3 linked regions of the Homo sapiens genome follow. The protein of the gene in region 1 purifies or fractionates together with the protein of each later gene. This does not show direct contact. Each region holds a gene or a part of one and is shown in the gene's direction. Other genes may lie near its edges.

Region 1 (3,653 bases):
CCTTTCCCGGGGAAATCTCTCTGGGCTTGGTCAGCCACTGTGTTGTGACCTAGAGTGTCTGAAGTGCCTGTGGCCTGGAGCTCCGGGGCTGAGAGAGATCTGAGCATAGGAGTTTGGGTCCTGAAGTTCTGAGTGGCCCCTGGAAGTAGATGTGACAGTCGAGTGAGAAAAGGGCTTAGGAAATGGTGCCCTGAGAAATGACAGCCACTGAGGCCGAGGAAAGGGTCTATATCAGAGACAGATGTGTAGAGGGGGCCTGGAGCCAATCCAGGAAATCCAGGAGGAGGGGCAATGCACAGTGCCACATTCTCGAGGGGACAGATAACACCAAAAGCATCAGGAGAGAGAGAAGGGAGATGGGGGAGCCAGAGACAGGAGCCATACCCATTGTCCATGGTCACCTCCTGGGCACCTCCACAGATCAGCTTTTTCATTAAGTGCCTGCTCTGTGCCTATCTGGGGCTGGGGACAGTGCAGTGACCGAGTTAGCCTCAGGTCCTGCCTGCATCGGCCTCACAGTCCAGTTGGAGAGACAGACTTGTCACCATGCAGTGAGGACCCAGAGCAGTCAGAGCTCAGATAGAGGATCCCAGGGGTCTGGAGGTCAGGGAAGGCTTCCTGGAGGAGGGGACATCTGAGTTGGGATTCTCCGGTATGGAAGACAGATGAAAGGGAGTGAGTCTGGAGGGAGAGAGTTCAGGGAGGAGACGGAAAACGATTCTATGTAACCCAAGAGTAGATTCACACCAGTGGGTAGGATGTACTTCCAGGAATAAAATTCCTGACAGAAGTCAGGAAGAGGATATTAGGTTAACATTTACAAACTGAGCATTTTCTCCCTTACTCTGTCATTGCCATTCTCCCAATCCTGTCAGTTGAGTATTTTGACCCCCAGTTTTGATAAGGAAACACCAAGGCTCAGCTTGCGAATCCAGAAAGTGACAGAACCAGGATTTGAGTCCAGGTCTGTGCGACTCCAAAGGTCTTGCTGCCATTTATTAAGGCCGGCCTCGTGTTAAGCCCAGGGAGCTTTGAGAACCTTGAGAATGTGTCTGACCCAGCCTATGGTTCAGGGAGGGCTTCCTGGAGGAAGGGACAGTCCAGCTGAGATCTAAAAGAAGAATTGGGAAAAGACAGGAAGAGAGAAATGGAGGGGGCCAGGTGCGGTGGCTCACACCTGTAATCCCAGCACTTTGGGAGGCTGAGGCGGGTGGATCACGTGAGGTCAGGAGTTCGAGACCAGCCTGGTCAACATGGTGAAACCCTGTCTCTACCAAAATATACAAAAATTAGCCAGGTGTGGTGGTATGTGCCTGTAGTCCCAGCTACATGGGAGGCTGAGGTGAGAGAATCACTTGAACCCGGGAAGCGGAGGTTGCAGTGAGCCGAGATTGTGCCACTACAGTCCACCTGGGACAGCATGGCGAGACTCCATCTCAAAAAAAAAAAAAAAAAAAAAAGAAAGAAAAAGAGGGAAAGAAGAGAGAGAAGAGAAAGAAAGAAAAGAAAAGAAAGAAAGAAAGACCATTGTCCATATTCTTTTAAGTAATAGAGAAAGTAGGAATACTGACTTACTCATTTTATGAGTCCAATAGAATACTGATATCAAAGCCTGATAAAGTCATTACAGAAAAGGAAAATTATAGGTTAAGATCTCTCATGAAGTTGGAGTTAGGCCAGACACGGTGGCTCACACCTGTAGTCCCAGTACTTTGGGAGGCCAAGGTGAATGGATCACTTGAGGTCAGGAGTTTGAGACCAGCCTGGCCAACATGGTGAAATCCCGTCTCTACTAAAAATACAAAAATTAGTCGGACATGGTGGTGGGCGCCTGTAATCCCAGCTACTTGGGAGGCTCAGGCAGGAGAATCACTCGAACCCGGGAGGCAGAGGTTGCAGTGAGCCAAGATCAAGCCACTGCACTCCAGCCTGGGCAACAAGAGCAAGACTCTGTATCAAAAAAAAAAGCACCAAAGTCTCATGAAGCAGCACTCAGAGGGTCTCCTCTCTGCCTTAGTCACACCACACTGGAGAGTGTTTCCATGGCCACTGCATTGCAGAGCGGAGATCATGCCACTGCACTCCAGCCTTGGGGACAAAGCGAGACTCCGTCTAAAAAAAATAAAAAAAAAAAACAGCAGAACATAGAATAATAAAAACTGCATACAAATCCCCTGTAGAAATGGGGGAGCGGAGAAAGGGCAGGCCGCATGGGGGCAGAGTGCTCACCTTTCATAGTGGGGCTGGATTATGAGTAGGTAACGATGGCGTAGATCTGAACAAACCTCCAGTTGAAGAGCTCAGAAATGAGTGAGGTATGCTTACTATGGGCTGTCCAGGAGATGGCGCTAGGGGAAAACAGGCTGGCGACCGCAGTAGTTGAGGGTTCCTCTGAGGAGGGGACTTTGGCTTTACATTTTATAGTTTGAGTACTTTGTTTTCTTGCCATGTGTTACTTTTATTTGCGGCAGGAGTTGGGGGTGGGGCGACGGGGAATGGTAGGTTTGTTCTTTTCTTTTCTTTTTTTGAGACAGTCTTGCTCTTGTTGCCCAGGCTGGAGTGCAGTGGCGTGGTCTTGGCTCACGGCAACCTCCACCTCCTGGGTTCAAGCGATTCTCCTGTCTCAGCCTCCCGAGTAGGTGGGATTACAGGGGCCTCCCACCACGCCCCGCTAATTTTTTGTATTTTTACTGGAGATGGGTTTCACCATGTTGGCCAGGCTGGTCTTGAACTCCTTACCTCATGATCTGCCTGTCTCAGCCTCCCAAAGCGCTGGGATTAAAGGCCTGAGCTACCGCGCCCAGCCAGTTTGTTCTTTTCTTCTCACCAATTCCTTCTGATTGCTGCGTGGGGGACAATTGCAGAGGGGTGAGGCTGGGGCCGGCAGGTGGGAAGGAGGCTGGAGGCGGGACTCACTTATGTGTTAAGCTTAGATCTAATGAGCATCATGCGTGTGCCTGGCCTGGCACTGGGCAGTGCTGGGGACACAGCAGTGACTGTGACAGCCCTGGGCCCCACCCTTGTGAGGCTTACAGGACAGTGGGGAGACTGATTGCAGACAGGTAACTGGATAGCCACTATTCCTGGTTGTGATAGGCACTCAGAAGGGGATAGACAGGCTGTATTCCTCCTATTCAGGAGGTCAGGGAGGAGAACGTTGGTCAGAGCTGGGATGGATCCTGGACCAGGACAGCAGAAGGGAATCCACTGGGAGAGATGTTCAAGATGCAGAATGGACCCGACACGCAGCTGAGAGGCTGTGGGAGAAGGGGAACAGCTGGGCTGAGGCCCCCGTCTCTAGCCAGGGGACAGGTGTGGGGCCAGGTGCTGGGTTCAGGTTTGGATGTGCTGAGTGTGAGAGGTCTAGGAGACATCTGGAGCGTGTTGACCCCCGCAAGTCTGGTGAGTCCTCCAGCTTAGCCTGTCCCGGCCCCTCACAGCTGTCCCTTCTAGAATCACAGCCCTGTGATTCATCCCCACCTGGGCCTTGTTTCCTGAACCCCACATCTGACCGCTGGCCCGAGGGAGAATGCCGTCGGCCCCTGCTCTGAAAGCCCTGAAAGCCCATGCCTGCGTGCACACACGCGTGCACACACACACACACCCTCTTGATTTGATTTCCTGTGGCCTGGGTATGTGCCCACTCCCATTGG
Region 2 (3,653 bases), on another chromosome or scaffold:
TATTTCCTACAAACAAGGACCTTTTCTAGCATAACCACAATACAACCATCAAAATTAGAAAATTGACGCTGATAATTTTGCTGCTGTTCAGTGTTCAGATAATCTTCAGGGTATTGTTTATTTGTTTGTTTTTTGAGACAGAGTTTCACTCCTGTTGCCCAGGCTGGATTACAGTTCAGTCTTCCAAGTTTTGCCACTTGATGTCTTTCAGAGCAAAAGGATCTGTTTCAGAACCATACCACCTTGTATCTAGTTGTTTACCTTAGCCTCCTTCATCTGTAACAGTTTCCCAGGCTTTAACTGACTCCCACAACCTTGACAGCTTTGACAGTTACAGGAGAGTTATTTTGTAGAATGCCCCTTAGCTTGGATTTGTCTGATGTTTCCTCATTCAGGTCATTCGGGTTGTGTACCTTTGGCAGGAATATCACAAAAGTGATGCTGTATTCTCCGTGCATCTGGTCAGATACCACATAGTACCAGTTGTCCCATTACTGATAATGTCCAGTTTGATCACTTGATTAATGTGTGTCTAACAGGTTTTCTACTGAAAAGTTACTCATGTAATTAATGGTGTTTCATGATTTGTATTGACATACGTATACTTACATATTCTGTTCCCCATCCCACTATCAATGTATTCATTTATTTATATCTGTGGACTTGTTTCCTATATATTCATTCAGTTTAAATCCATATTCTCTTTATTTTGATGCCCAAGTTGTCCCAGATTGATCAGCGGGAGCCCCCTTGGAGCAGGCTTCTGTGTCTTTGACACGTCTCCAATATTCTCTAAGTTCTGCTTTCCTTCTGCCACAACAAGAGGTTCCAGCCTCATTTTACACTTTCTTTGCCGCAACCCTGGTATCAGCCATTTCTCCAAAAAGCTGTTTCCTTTTAGTGAAGAATGATATTTAGAAGTCAGGTTCTGGGCTCATGGTTCTTGGAGTGTGTCTGCTCCCTGGTCCTCTCAGTGGACATGGTGAGAAAATAGATATATTTATGTACATCTATATTTATTTATATCTATATAGATAGAAGTTCACACTAGTACCTGCAGTGTATTTGCAGTACTGCAGGGTTCAGCCTAGCTCTCTTTCTCTCCATAGTTGACTCTTGTTTCCTATTGTAACTCTCTTCTCTTTAATATACTCATTTATTTCATCAATTTCCTGTGTGTAACTAAGGTCCCGTCACCACTATCACCTCCCCACCCAGCTGCCCTCCTTAGCACCCTCAGGATCAGACTCCCTATGCCAGGCCACCCACCGCACCCCACTTGTTTAGACATTCAGCTCTAGGCCACTGCAGCCCCTCCCTGCCCCCAGCATGGACACAGCTAATGGCTTAGGACTGAATTGTTCCTGAAAAAGAAGAAATATTTTTTCCTTTTTTACAACATACCATAGCATTTCATTTGATTTTGTTTTAATGTTTTGTGCTTATTTTTCTGAAAAGATTTTTTTAGCTTCTTGAAAACTGAAACTGTTTTTTCCACATTTTGTGCCCCCACCATGAGTAGCATAGTACGGGCCATATGTCAGGTATTTGAGTACCTCTGGTTAAATTGACTTTTTTTTTGGTGTCGATATGTTTTTGTCTCCTTAAGAGTTAGAGAAGGAACGGCAGCGACACATCGGCAAGCCTTTACTTGGGGGACCGTTTTCCCTCACAACTCATACTGGGGAGCGTAAAACTGACAAGGACTACTTGGGTCAGTGGTTATTGATTTATTTTGGCTTCACTCATTGCCCTGATGTCTGTCCAGAAGAACTAGAAAAGATGATTCAAGTCGTGGATGAAATAGGTAAGAAAGCCATCACTAACTAAACAAAGTATATGTTTACTTCATGTTACCAGGTTTTTCACACCCTTGTATTATTGTTAGGTGGGGTTTTGCAATTATGTGATTTGTAAGAACATAAAATCTCAGCATTTGGCTTGTTTGTTGCTTTGAATCTTGTGACCTTATTCTCCACTGAAAGAAGCTTGTTTTGATGTTAAATGTTAGATCACTTAAAAATGTCAGTGTGGTCTCCCTTAACTCTACTTTTGTGTCCCTTCCTTTGCATCACTGATGCTGCCATTGCCTCTTCCCCACTGATTGTGACAATTAAATTAGGAAATCTTTGCAATGGTCTGCAGTCTGTGGCATTTTACTAGTACTAGTAAGAAGGAAGGGTGCCTCCTCCATACAGTGAATTATTTCAGGATATTCAGCTCTTATTAACAATTTACCTTCTTGCCCTTGAGATATGGTGGGAGTGAAAAAAACTACAGATACTGGAGTGGATTCAGAGATAAGATAGCCACATGACATTATCCAGGGGAAGAACATTTATGTGCTGGTGCAGGCATTTGATAGGATATGTAACCTTGTATTATCCACCACAGATAATACTACTGTATATGGGTCTCCTCCTCCTAAAGGCCATCCCTTCTCCATCCCCTTCCCCGTCCTCTTCCTCTTCACCTGAATGTTAAGATGTCCATCTGCTTTCAAAACACCTAGCTGTCCAGCACGTCCTATACTCTCCTGTTATTGCTGGTTTTCTTTGTCTTTTCCCTTAGGGTGTGAATACGGACTAATTGGAACTCTCTTTCAGATAGCATTACAACTCTGCCAGATCTAACTCCACTTTTCATCAGCATTGACCCAGAGAGGGACACAAAAGAAGCCATCGCAAATTATGTGAAAGGTATTTTTTTAAATAATACTTTACATTTATTTAGCCTTAAAGTTTTTGGAATATCAGTTCATTTGAACCTTACAGTGCCTTGTGAAATAGGACAAATGGTATTATCACCAGTTTTATGGGTGAATAAAAAGGTGAAGCTAGGAATTGTTATGGATAGTTAGTGCGTAAGTAAGAAATGGGTTTCTCAATTCCTGATGCAGTGCTCTTTATATTTTGTCACAGAGAAAGGATTTGAACTTGGCCTTCATGTATCAACTAAGTTAATCGAGCCTTGAATTGAGAGTAAGGACACATTGCTTCTAACTCCAGCGCTGTAACTCATTCTCTGCATTGTAAAATCAGAACAAACATATATTCTGGAAGTATGTTCATTGGTAGATTAAAGATGAATAATTAAATACAAACATATTTTGAACTCAGTGCATGTTTTATAAATTTAAAACATTTACTGTAACAGGCCGGGCATGGTGGGCCTGTAATCCCAGCACTTTGGGAGACCAAAGTGGGTGGATCACCTGAGGTCAGGAGTTTGAGACCAGCCTGGCCAACATGGTGAAGCCCCGTCTCTACTAAAAATACAAAAATTAGCCAGGCACGGTGGTGCACACCTATAATCCCAGATATTCGGGAGGCTGAGGCAGGAGAATTCGCGTGAACCTGGCAGGCGGAGGTAGCAGTGAGCTGACATCACGCCACTGATCTTCAGCCTGGGCAACAGAGCTAGACTCTGTCTTAAAGATAAATAAAACATTTACTATGACAAAGTAACTGTTGTTTAATTGACACATAACAGTTGTACATATTTATGGGGTACAGAGTCCCTATCCTCCCCAACCCTTTCCAGCCTCTAGTATCCACAATTCTTCTCTCTACTTCTGTGAGATCAACTTTTTTAGTTTCCACGTATGAATATGCAGTATTTATCTTTCTGTGCCTGACTTTTTTCATTTAACA
Region 3 (3,653 bases), on another chromosome or scaffold:
AGAAACAGATTCCATCCCTGTAAACGATATGTATGTCATAGACCAGTACATGCTACACTTACTGCAGGATTTGGCAAACAAGGTAAATGTAAATTAATAAACTTTTGGAAACTAGAAATATCAGCACTATTGTAGGTTAAAATTTTAGTTTTATCTGAGTGGAACAGACCTTGCTGGAAATAGTAACTATAGCACTCTTGAAGAGAAATATGTCCAGACTTCCCCTCGGACCAGATTTTTCTCTCATGATTAGCTCTATTTTTCCAACAAGAAGGAATAAAGTGGAGTTATACTTTATCTGCACATGTGCTCCTCATAATAAAGTACAGAAATAACCAAAATGGACTATCCTATTTGTCTCATAAGATACTTACTCATTTTCATATAGACTTAAATAATTTCTGTTTTCTGGCTGGGTGTGGAAACTCACACCTATAAATCCTACTACTTTGGGAGGCCGAGGTGGGAGGATTGCTTGAGGCCAGGTGTTCAAGACCAGCCTGGGCAACAGAGCAGGAACCTATCTCTAGAAAAATTTTAAAAATTAGCCAGGCGTGTTAGCCAGTGCATGTAGTCCCAGCTCCTTGGGAGGCTGAGGCAGGAGAATCGCTTGAGCCCATGGTTTTGAGGCTGCAGTGAGCTGTGATTGTGCCACTGCACTCCAGCCTGGTTGACAGAGTGAGACCCTGTCTTAAAAAAAAAAAATTGTGTTTTCTCATAATTGGAAATGTGTTTGCATTAGTGTACCCTTAAGTCAGAGGTGTACATACCAATTTTGCCCAAATCAAAAATAAATGAGGCATAAATGAAGGAACACTAATGAATTGTTGGTGACGTCCACTGTTTGCTGTTGTTAAAATGGTGTGATTTTGTTATTTACAATCTCATTCTTTCCTTAATTAATGTCCTTTCGTAGTTCTCAGAGTAAAATAGTATTTTCTGAGTGTAGTCAAATGTGTTATCCAGAAATGACATTTGGAAGATTCCCAGGAGTTCTTGCATATTGCCTGTTTTGTATTTGTCTCATTGAAACATATTTTTGAAAGGAGCATATTTTGCTTGTGATGACTTACATTTTCATTTGCCTGTCTCAGCTTCCAAATTTATTTTGGCTTTGTTCCCTAGATTACCGAATTATACAAACAATATGATTTTGGAAAAGTTGTTCGGCTGTTACGGACGTTTTATACCAGAGAGCTCTCTAACTTTTATTTCAGTATAATCAAAGATAGGTATGTATGACTAAATATTAAAATGCTTAACAATGGCCAGGTGTGGTGACTCACGCCTGTAATCCCAGCACTTTGGGAGGCCGAGGCGGGTGGATGACATGAGGCCAGGAGTTCGAGACCAGTATGGCAAAATACAAAAATTAGCCGGGCATGGTGGCACATGCCTGTAATCCGAGTCACTCAGGAGACTGAGGCACGAGAATCGCTTGAACTTGGGAGGCGGAGGTTGCAATGAGCAGAGATTGTGCTGCTGCACTCCAGCCTGGGTGACAGAGCAAGATCTCGTCTCAAAAAATAACAACAACAAAACCTCAACAAGTATTTTTTGAGTGTCTACTTGTGTTTGGCAACCGTCAGGGATACAGTGATGAGCAAGATGGGCAGTGTTGTGCAGTTATTAAGATTGGGTTCCGGGCCAGGCGTGGTGCCTCACGCCTGTAATCCCAGCACTTTGGGAGGCCGAGGCGGGCGGATCACGAGGTCAGGAGATCGAGACCATCCTGGCTAACACAGTGAAACCCCGTCTCTACTAAAAATACAAAAAATTAGCTGGGCGTGGTGGCGGGTGCCTGTAGTTCCAGCTACTTGGGAGGCTGAGGCAGGAGAATGGCGTGAACCCGGGAGGCAGAGCTTGCAGTGAGCCGAGATCGTGACACTGCACTTCAGCCTGGGCGACAGAGCAAGACTCCGTCTCAAAAAAAAAAAAAAAAAAAGATTGGGTTCCGGAGTCAAGTCTGAGTATAAAGGTTTGACCTCCCGCTTACTAGCTTTCTGATTTGGGGCAACTTATTCTGTAATCTGTTTCTTCATCTGTAAAATGGGTATAATAATACTTACCTCGTGATTGAGAAGGAAAAGCAATAATGTGCTTAAAGCTGTGCTTGATAAAGTGTTCAAAAAATCATCACTACTAATATCAGACGATGAACATAATGCTTGTTCTCAGGAGTTCTCAAATCCTGAGGGGAAGAGAGAGATATATATGTGCAATTATATGGTAACAGTGTATAATATTAGCAGTATCCTTGTAGAAGAGGCCTTGATGCCAAGTCTTCATCTGTTGCTCCAGTGTGCAGGTGACGGTCCTACCTTCATGGTAATGAGTCCAGTCTGAGGCGTTATCCTCAGCCTGTCAGCACCCCAAGGACCTTGCACATAGGGATTATAACTCCTACTCCTTCCCTTAAAACACTAATAACATTGGAGTGGGTGGGAGCCACATGTTAAATACCATCAACTAACTTATTCATAGTCCTTTAATACAGTAGTCTAGACTCTAGTTGTCATCCACCTGAGAAACAGAATGAGATAGCGTAGCCATGAGTGCTTTCAAGGAGGTGGGTACACCTGGACGGAGTAAAATTGTAGGAGAGTGTATTGTATTCTTTAAGTAGAAGATGATTAGAGCCATAGGATTAGCCACTAGGAATAAACTCAACCTGAGGCAGGTCCCATCTAGGTGACCATAATGTATAAAGTATTGTCAACTGCTGAATAAGTTGTTCTTGTTCAGGCTCTATTGTGAAAAGGAAAATGACCCCAAACGACGCTCTTGTCAGACTGCATTAGTTGAAATTTTGGATGTAATAGTTCGTTCTTTTGCTCCCATTCTTCCTCACCTGGCTGAAGAGGTGTTCCAGCACATACCTTATATTAAAGGTAAGGAATACTTCATTTATTCTCTTAATGAGAAATATCCCTGATCAAGGTGCAACTTCTACTTCTATCTGCTTCATAAAAGGGGCACTTATCCATTTACAGTGACTGCTGTGTGACACAGTGTGTCTTGGTCATGTATTTGTTTCTGCACCTATTTGTAGAGGAGTAGGGTAAATTTCAGAATTCTGTGCTTTCTGAAATGTATTAGCAGCTTGACAGTGTCGAGAAATCACCTTTTTTCTTAAATACCTTTATAACTGTTCTGAAATGGCTGGCATGGTGGCTCACACCTGTAATCCCAGCACTTTGGGAGGCCGAGGTGGGCAGATCACTTGAGGTCAGGAGTTCAAAATTAGCCAGGCCAACATGGCGAAACCCCATCTCTACTAAAAATATAAAAATTAGTGGGGCATGGTGGTGGCGGGTGCCTGTAGTCCCAGCTACTTGGGAGGCTAAGGCAGGAGAATTGCTTGAACTCGGGAGGTGGAAGTTGCAGTGAGCCAAGATCATGCCACTGTACTTCAGCCTGGGTGACAGAGCAAGACTGTCAAAAAAAATGTTCTGAAATATATTTTAGGTTGTATTAAAACAAAATATAGTGCTTTTAGTGAGTTTTATGTTAGTTGTTTTCTTCTGATTGTATTAAGTTTATAAAAATTAGAAACTATAGAAGTGTAGGAAGAGGGGGAAGTCACTTATAATGTTACTCCTGATAGCTGTTAATATTGGGATATTTCTATTTATTTTTTTCTAAGCATCCTT

What was found.
Region 2: the proteins of OPA3 (region 1) and SCO1 purify together in Homo sapiens (affinity purification with mass spectrometry; one large-scale study listed by BioGRID and IntAct). This does not show direct contact.
Region 3: the proteins of OPA3 (region 1) and IARS2 purify together in Homo sapiens (co-immunoprecipitation; one large-scale study listed by IntAct). This does not show direct contact.

The regions. Positions count from the first base shown.
Region 1 is NC_000019.10:45,557,205-45,560,857, reverse strand, and holds part of OPA3 (optic atrophy 3 protein), read left to right. Parts: intron 1-3,653. UniProt on the Homo sapiens protein: May play some role in mitochondrial processes.
Region 2 is NC_000017.11:10,690,918-10,694,570, reverse strand, and holds part of SCO1 (protein SCO1 homolog, mitochondrial), read left to right. Parts: intron 1-1,609; coding exon 1,610-1,807; intron 1,808-2,606; coding exon 2,607-2,699; intron 2,700-3,653. UniProt on the Homo sapiens protein: Copper metallochaperone essential for the maturation of cytochrome c oxidase subunit II (MT-CO2/COX2). Not required for the synthesis of MT-CO2/COX2 but plays a crucial role in stabilizing MT-CO2/COX2 during its subsequent maturation.
Region 3 is NC_000001.11:220,139,058-220,142,710, forward strand, and holds part of IARS2 (isoleucine--tRNA ligase, mitochondrial precursor), read left to right. Parts: coding exon 1-82; intron 83-1,125; coding exon 1,126-1,232; intron 1,233-2,745; coding exon 2,746-2,891; intron 2,892-3,653.